2 linked regions of the Homo sapiens genome follow. The protein of the gene in region 2 interacts with the protein of the main gene of each other region in a biochemical or structural test. Each region holds a gene or a part of one and is shown on either strand. Other genes may lie near its edges. The genes, in order: NR2C2 and NR2C2AP.

Region 1 (3,812 bases), on a different chromosome or scaffold from region 2:
TTGTCTCAGCTGGTTTTTTGTCTTAATTTTGAAACTGAAAACACATCAGGGTTAGAAAAGTAAAAATTACTTTAAGCTGGCAAAATTAAATCCTTTCCATCATTTTATAATGGCCACTCCCACTACTCTCCAAAATTTGCTGCCAAGGCAAGAATTATAAAATGATATAATTAAATCCAAACAAGAATTTAGAAGTTGGAAACACTGTTCCCACTTACCCTACTAACACTGACTTGCGTAAAGTGCTGCTAACCCTTCAGGATCAAGCATCCTGTTCTGCCTTGAGCCTGCAGCAGCTTCCATTCTGTCCAATGTGGCACCACAGGGGCGTCTGTAGCTGGCCAGACTGCACCCCTGTGGAGCACATGTGGCGCCAGCCTGAGCCAGATCAGAGCACCTGTGAGTCAGGGGAGTGTCCAGGGATCTTTTTGGATATCATCTGATTAACAAATCAAGAGAGGCAAATTTAACCCAACAGGGTGTATTTTCTTAATCTGGACTATTTAAAAAGCAAAAGACAAAGCAATTGACCGGGTCTTCCACATGCCACTGTTCTCAAACAGGAAAAGCTTGCTATATATTCACATCCGTGGGAATTTACGGGTGTTTGAAGTTAGACATAACTTCCTTTTAAGCGCATACTGTTCTTGCTGTAAACTCTGGTTGCTACAATTTATGAGGAGAAAGACTATCACCCTGGAAATTGAGGGTTGTTTTTAAGGAGCAAGCAGCCTGCATTTAAAATGCTCCGGGGTGGTCGGCTGGCACACACCTGGGGGAACCAAAGTGCACAGTGTGCTGGTAACATTAACAGACTTGCCAACAGAGATGCTGAGTCTATACACATTTTTAAAATCTCTGGTATTTAAGGTCAACAGGAAGAAATTGTCCTGAAACCTTCCATCCAGCTTTACCAGGCCCTAACCACTCTCGCCAGGCGGCAGCAGGCTCCTGCCCAGCCCCAATCCAGCCTCACAGTTATGATGGAGCTGCAGAAACACGAGCCCTTTTCAAGGGGGCATTTGGAGTGGAAAGCCCTGGGAAGGTAACGCTCACACTCCAAGGCCACACTCCTCCATCTGGACAAACACACAAGCACCCCCAATTGTATTGGAAGTACTGTCAAGAGCTCAAAATGCCCACCTTGCACTTTTTGGTCACAAGGCTCCATCTGCCACGAGCGGCGGATGTGACTTGGGGATGTTTTCACTTGCTGGAGGAACTGTACATCTCATTTGGCAGTTAATGTCTGACTAGTTGCAATCCAATTCAGATAACCAGTCATCAAAGGAGAACCCCAGGTTCTAGAGGAGTCTGCAGATGCCCATCAGAGACCAGGACCAAGTAGTCAGGGAACCTGACAAGTGTCTGCTCTATGGCTAGAAGCTTCTGAACTGGGTCACCACCGACTGTGCTACCACACTCCCACTTACTGCATGATGCAAATGAGCCACGTTTCCATTCACAGAATTCAGCTCAACTCCACAACATGTGCACACAATTAGGAATGATGCCTTCTTTTCTTAAACATAAATGATTGTCTCCTGTACCCTAGTGAGTTTTCACAGAAATCATTAGCATTTCGGCAAAAGACATACACAGTTTTCCATTTGCCCTGCCCACAGGCAAGATGTTGCTAACGTTACACATTGATAAGTGCTTAGAAAGTGCTAATATTATTACCCTGGTAATTAGTATCTATAATTCCAAGGACTTTTTTATATATATATATACACACATACTATTCTCTCAGGTTCTTTCAGTTTTCTTTAATACTAGTCTCTGACATTATAAAACCTTTTTTTTTGTTTTTTGCCCTTTGAGAATTTCTAAATACAAATTGAGTTAAAAGATTGTTCCAAAATCTGCTGCTTCATCAAAAGGCATTAAAACATTTCTTATGTCAGGAAAGGATCCTACTAGTCTTTTAATTGCTATTGTCTGGGATTAACAGATAAGGAGAAACCAGACAGGAAATGGCTAACATATGGAAATATTTGCACATACCAAAATACCACTACTTTTCTTTGTATGTGAACGGTCCTGGAAGGATTCTGTTGCTCCTTGGCAGGTGTGTGGTTTGCGCTATAGACTGGCTCCGGTGATCTGGCCATTATACTCTGCTGTCTCCATCTTGAGGATGTAGGGGATTATGCTGTCTATCGAAACATTGCCAATGAGACCAGTAAAAAAAAGTTCTTCTGTTATGTTGGAGCTCATCAGCCTGAGTGCCGGCAGGCGAACGAGGATCCGGGCCAATCTATAAAAGGGAGTGTCATTAGAAAAGGAGACTGTTTGATGCCCTTCAACCACAGCTCAGCAAAGGCTCCTGGGGTCCCGTCTGTATTGCACAGAATCAAACCAAACGGATCCACCATCCACCCACCTCTCTTTTCTGATTTCAACAGTTCCTCTTATAGAAATTTATCATGAGAAAAAACCAAATGAGTACAAAATGTATGTACAGATGTGTTCCCTTCACTCTTGTTTATTCCAACTCTCCTCACCCCCACCACCAAGAGAAAACCTGGAAATTCATCAACAGAGGACAGACTAAAGTAGGAGTCTTCATATGATGAACTGCTAGAGACTCATTTAAAAAACGATAATACAAACCTGTATTTACTGACCAGGAAAGACATCCATGACATATTGCTCAATAAAAGTTTAAAAGGAGATTATAAAACAGCAAGTATAGATGTGTATATAAAGTATTGGGAAAATGTTCACCACGCTAACAGTTGGGCTCTGGGTATTGGGATTTGAGGTGATTTTTTCTTATTTTTTGTACTGCTCTAATTTCCAGTGTTCATTTAGCATTATAAATAAAGCAGTAAAATAGCTTTCATTTTGAAGAAACTTGGGGTGGAGGGTGCACCACAATGCTGCCCTGGAGGGCCACTGAACACTGTGTATCTCAAGTGTCCCACGTGACCAGGCCATTCCCCAGCCAGGACTGGATCTCAGGTGAGCAAGTGGAGCATGTGCCAGGACTCTACTGCAGTGCCATGTGTGACAGCCCAAACCGGAAACACCCTACCTTTTCATTAGCAGGGAAATAGGAACCATAGAAAATGAAGAAGAGTACGTATTGTTATTGTATATTACATGAAAAAAGGTTACAAAACCTTTGGTATTTTATGATCCCAATTACAATACATAAAAAATTTCTGGAAGTGAATACGCAAAATGTTAATAGTAGGTATCTGGACAGTGCTTTTTTGTTTTTGTTTTTTTGAGATAGTGTCTTGCTCTGTCATCCAGGCTGCAGTGGAGTGATGTGATCACAGCTCACTGCAACCGCAACCTCCCAGGCTCAAGTGAGTCTCCCACCTCAGACTTCTGAGTAACTGGGACTACAGGTGCACACCACCGCACCTGACTAATTTTTCATTTTTTTGTCATAGAGATGGGGTCTCACTATGTTGCCCAGGGTGGTTTCAAACTCCTGGGCTCAAACAATCCTGCTGCCTCAGTGTCCCAAAGTGTTGGAATTACAGGTGTGAGTCACCACGCCCTGCCCCTGGATAGTGCTTTTTAAAAAGTTTTCTTTTTCCTTTTTCCTTTCTAGAACATTCTAAATTTTTCTAGAGTGAATACTGCTTATTTTTAAAATGGGAAAATGTATTCATACTATGCAGGTAGCATTCCAGCACCAGCATCCATTCACTCAGCCACAATGAGTCGCTGTGCTCCAATCTTGCAGGGCACACGAAGGTGTAAGGGACCTGCCATCTCAGCTGGGCCTTAGGGGCTGGCTAAGATTTCTATCAGCAGAGATACAAAGAATGGGGAGGGATGGGAGGCATTTC
Region 2 (4,090 bases):
CTGCCTCAGCCTCCCAAGTAGCTGGGATTACAGGCATGCACCACCATGCCCAACTAATTTTTTGCATTTTTAGTAGAGTCAGGGTTTCTCCATGTTGGTCAGGTGATCTCAAACTCCCGACCTCAGGTGATCCACCCGCCTCAGCTTCCCAAAGTGCTGGGATTACAGGCATGAGCCACCACACCCGGCTGCACCTGGCTAATTTTTGTAGTTTTAGTAGAGATGGGGTTTCATCATGTTGGTCAGGCTGGCCTTTCCTGACTTCAAGTGATCCACCTACCTTGGCCTCCCAAAGTGCTAGGATTACAGGTGTGAGCCACCAAGCCCAGCCTAATTTTTAAATTTTTTTGGTAGAGACAGCGTTTTGCTCTGTTGCCCAAGCTGGCCTCAAATTCCTGAGCTCAAGCAGTCCTCCCCACTGGACCTCCCAAAGTGCTGGGATTATAGGTGTGAGCCACCATGCCCAGGCTCATCTTTTCATGAAAGTCACAATTCACACATTTTGCTTGGTAGGAAATATTTTTATATTAATTCTGAAAAGCTACAAAAGTGCATTTTTACAAACTTAGGGGAAGTTGAGGTTCCTGGGGTGAGTCCTCGGTTCTCCCAGCTTTGCTCTGTAATGCAGGTCTCTGCAAGGGTCCCTGTTTGTCCCCTAAGGGGAGAGCGCAGGTTGGCCTGTGCCTCCACCCCACTCCCGATTCAAGCTCACAGCCCACCTTTTCCCTGCCCCATCTCAGTGCAACAGGTGATCGAGAACCACATCCTCAAGCTCTTCCAGAGCAACCTGGTGCCCGCTGACCCTGAGTGAAGGCCGCCTGCCGGGGACTCAGACACTCAGGGAACAAAATGGTCAGCCAGAGCTGGGGAAACCCAGAACTGACTTCAAAGGCAGCTTCTGGACAGGTGGTGGGAGGGGACCCTTCCCAAGAGGAACCAATAAACCTTCTGTGCAGAATGAGGGACTTTGCTGTGCTTCCCGGAGGGCTTCCTGGAGGAGACAGCCCCTAGAGGTCTCACACCTTCTCCCCAAGCACCCGCAGGTGGTAGATGACCACACGGCCAAAAAAGTCAGTGGCATCCTCAAACGTCACCTTCAGCCGGTCCACTTCAGCAGCTGGTATGGGGAAAGTGTGAGCGTGGGCAGTCAAGGGAAACTGGTGATTTCTGGTTTCCCACCCGCAGGCCCCCACCCCTTCCAGACCCAGCTCACACTCCACCGATGTGGGCAACCTGGGGAAGCTGCAGGTCCCTCTAAGCCTCTCACACAGAACAGGTGGTCATCAGCACCATTTTACAGAAAAAGTGGAGTCCTAGAGGTCACGTGTTCAAGATCACACATCAGGGTTCCCATTCGGGTTTGGGTGAGTCCAAAGCTTCCAGAGGCACAGACCACCCACCCCAGAAGCAGGGGCAGGATATCTGAAGCGAGTTGTTGTCCTCAGGGTAGAAATCTACAATCTTGTGGAGAGCCTGAGTGCCCTGTGAACCTTCAGCAGAGAAAGGCAATGAGTGTCTGGGGTGACCCCTGGAACCCCTGCCACCCAGGGCCTTCTAGTACCTTCCAGGCAGCCCCGGCGACTGGAGAAGCCACCCTGAAACTGGATCTGCAGCTGGGAGACACGGATGAGCTGGGGAAACTCCAGCGTCACCCACTGGGAGGGGCCCTGGAAGCAGACAGGGAAACTGAGGCGCAAGCTCACTGCAGGCACAGAGCCCTGCTATGCCTGTCTCATTCACATAGTTCTTGGAATGGAGGGGAAGAAGGAAATTCGGCACATGTTCCTTTCCTGGCCACCCATGAGGGCCCCCTGACGTTCTCAAGGCATGAGATCTGAATCTGAATCACCCTAGAGATGGAGGGTCGAGGGAGGCGCCTCACCTGGTCTGAGTTCCAACATGTCTCCTCATCCTGGTCGAAAAGATGTTTTTTTCCAAACTGCCGAGTGTTGCGATTCAGCACTGAACTCACCCTGGAGGCACCAGGATCAAGGCGAAGAGAGGGGCTGAGACCAGCTCTCAGCTCCGCGGAGGGCCTGACCCCCAGATCTGTCCACTGAGGGCTCGACCCCAGGCTTAGGGCCTCGCCACTGCCTGTCCCCACAGACTCTTACCTGCTCACTGTCTCTGGACAAACCAAAGAGTGGGTCATGTCGGTTCCACAAGACCTCGCAGGGCTTAGGATTGGGCACAGCCTTGGTTCGAATCCCGGCGCCTCCTCAAGCTACAGGGCGGCGCGATCTTGGCTACGCCTTGGCCTGAACGTCCTCACCTGTAACTTGGGACGAGAACCGCCACTCCCTCGCCCACCCCAGTCCTAAATGTCGCCTCGATCAATCCCCTGCCGGAAAATTTGGGAGAGAGGATCAGGGAAACCGCCAATGCCCGGAGGCCAGGCCTTTCACAGGAAACAGATTTCCCGCGGGTTTCGGGGGCGGTGGCTTTTTGTGCGAGGCTGTTTCTCTGCGAATAGCTCTTGGAGCCAAATCTTGGGACCCGGAACCGCGTGGGCTTGGCGCATGCGTGTTGTAATTCAGGCGCCGACCGCGGACGCTCCAGAGGTGGGGTTTGGTTCGACCCCGCCCCTTCATGCTCGCTTCTTAAAGGGCCCGGGTTCGATGATTGAATTTACCTTGGTTCCCTTGAAGCTGTAGGGAAAAGGCTGGCTGCGCGCACGGGGCGCTGTCCCTCGGCGCCCGAAGGTGTAGAGCACTGATTTTGACTGATTTTGGAATCCGAAAGACTTCCTTTTTTTTTTTTTTTTTTTGAGGCGGAGTCTCACTGTCGCCCAGGCTGGAGTGCAGTGGCACGATCTCCGCTCACTGCAAGCTCCGCCCCCTGGGTTCACGCCGTTCTCCTGCCTCAGCCTCCCAAGTAGCTGGGAATACAGGCGCCCGCCACCACGCCCGGCTAATTTTTCGTATATTTAGTAGAGACGGGGTTTCACCGTGTTAGCCAGAATGGTCTTGATCTCCTGACCTCGTGATCCAGCCGCCGGGGCTTCCAAAGTGCTGGGATTACAGGCTTGAGCCACCGCGCCCGGCCTTTTTTTTTTTTTTTTTTTGAAGTGGGGTCTCACTGTCACCCAGGCTGGAGTACAATGGTGGGATCGCGGCTCTCTGCGACCTCTGCCTCCCAGGCTCCAGCAATCCTCCTACCCAGCTTCCCGAATAGTTGGAACTAGTAGGCGCGCGCCACCACGGCAGGCTATTTTGTTTGTTTGTTTGTTTGTTTGTTTTTTGGTAGAGATGAGGTTTCGCCATGTTGCCCAGATTGGTCTCGAACTCCTGGGCTCAAGTGATCCGCCCACCTCAGCCTCCCAAAGTGCTGGGATTACAGGCGTAAGCCACCGCGCCCGGCCAGAGAGACTTCCTATGACAATGTCTTTCTTCCTACTCTAACCTACTCTACCCTAACGGCTACCCTAACCTACTCTAACCTACTCTACCCTAACCACTAAATGCAGCCTGGGAATCCCCGAACTTCACTGCCTCCCGGAGGCCAAAGGCAGAGTTGTGGAAAAGGCCACGATGTTGGGAGTATCTGAAGTCCTCATCAACCCTTTTTGTTCTTGTTGGGACAGAGGAGCCCTGGCCTCCAAGTTTGTCTTTCCCAGAAAATGCTGCTGGGACGTCAAGGAAGGCTTCTTGGAGGAGGGAGCATGCGAGGTCGGGTGTTTTTTGTTGTTTCTGTTTTGTTTTGTTTCGAGACGGAGCCTCACTTTGTTGCCCAGGCTGGAGTGCAGTGGTGTGATCTCAGCTCACTGCAACCTCCGCCTCCCAGGTTCAAGTGATTCCCCTGCCTCAGCCTCCTGAGTAGCTGTGACTACAGGTGCGCACCACTATGCCTGGCTAATTTTTGTATTTTTAGTAGAGATGGGGTTTCGCTATCTTGGCCAGGCTGGTCTCGAACTCCTAACCTCGTGATCTGCCCGCCTTGGCCTCCCAAAGTGCTGGGATTACAGGTGTGAGCCACCGCACCCAGGCTGTGAGGTGGGTTTTGAAGCATGAACAGGAGTTTGCCAAACAAAGCCTCAGATACCAAGCTGAAGATTTGGTTCACTGATTCACTAGACACCTCCTGCAAGCTC

What was found.
Region 1: the proteins of NR2C2AP (region 2) and NR2C2 form a complex in vitro, tested with the Homo sapiens proteins (one study listed by BioGRID).

What each region holds. Positions count from the first base shown.
Region 1 is NC_000003.12:15,041,282-15,045,093, reverse strand, and holds part of NR2C2 (nuclear receptor subfamily 2 group C member 2), read right to left. Parts: exon of another isoform or gene 2,261-3,812; coding exon 2,086-2,260; 3' UTR 1-2,085. UniProt on the Homo sapiens protein: Orphan nuclear receptor that can act as a repressor or activator of transcription.
Region 2 is NC_000019.10:19,200,909-19,204,998, forward strand, and holds NR2C2AP (nuclear receptor 2C2-associated protein), read right to left. Parts: upstream 2,507-4,090; 5' UTR 2,153-2,506; coding exon 2,115-2,152; intron 1,974-2,114; coding exon 1,883-1,973; intron 1,668-1,882; coding exon 1,562-1,667; intron 1,491-1,561; coding exon 1,423-1,490; intron 1,134-1,422; coding exon 1,017-1,133; 3' UTR 812-1,016; coding exon of another isoform or gene 741-811; 3' UTR 656-740; coding exon of another isoform or gene 566-655; 3' UTR 501-565; downstream 1-500. Other genes in the region: DNA-binding protein RFXANK, read left to right, coding at 741-811. UniProt on the Homo sapiens protein: May act as a repressor of NR2C2-mediated transactivation by suppressing the binding between NR2C2/TR4 and the TR4-response element in target genes.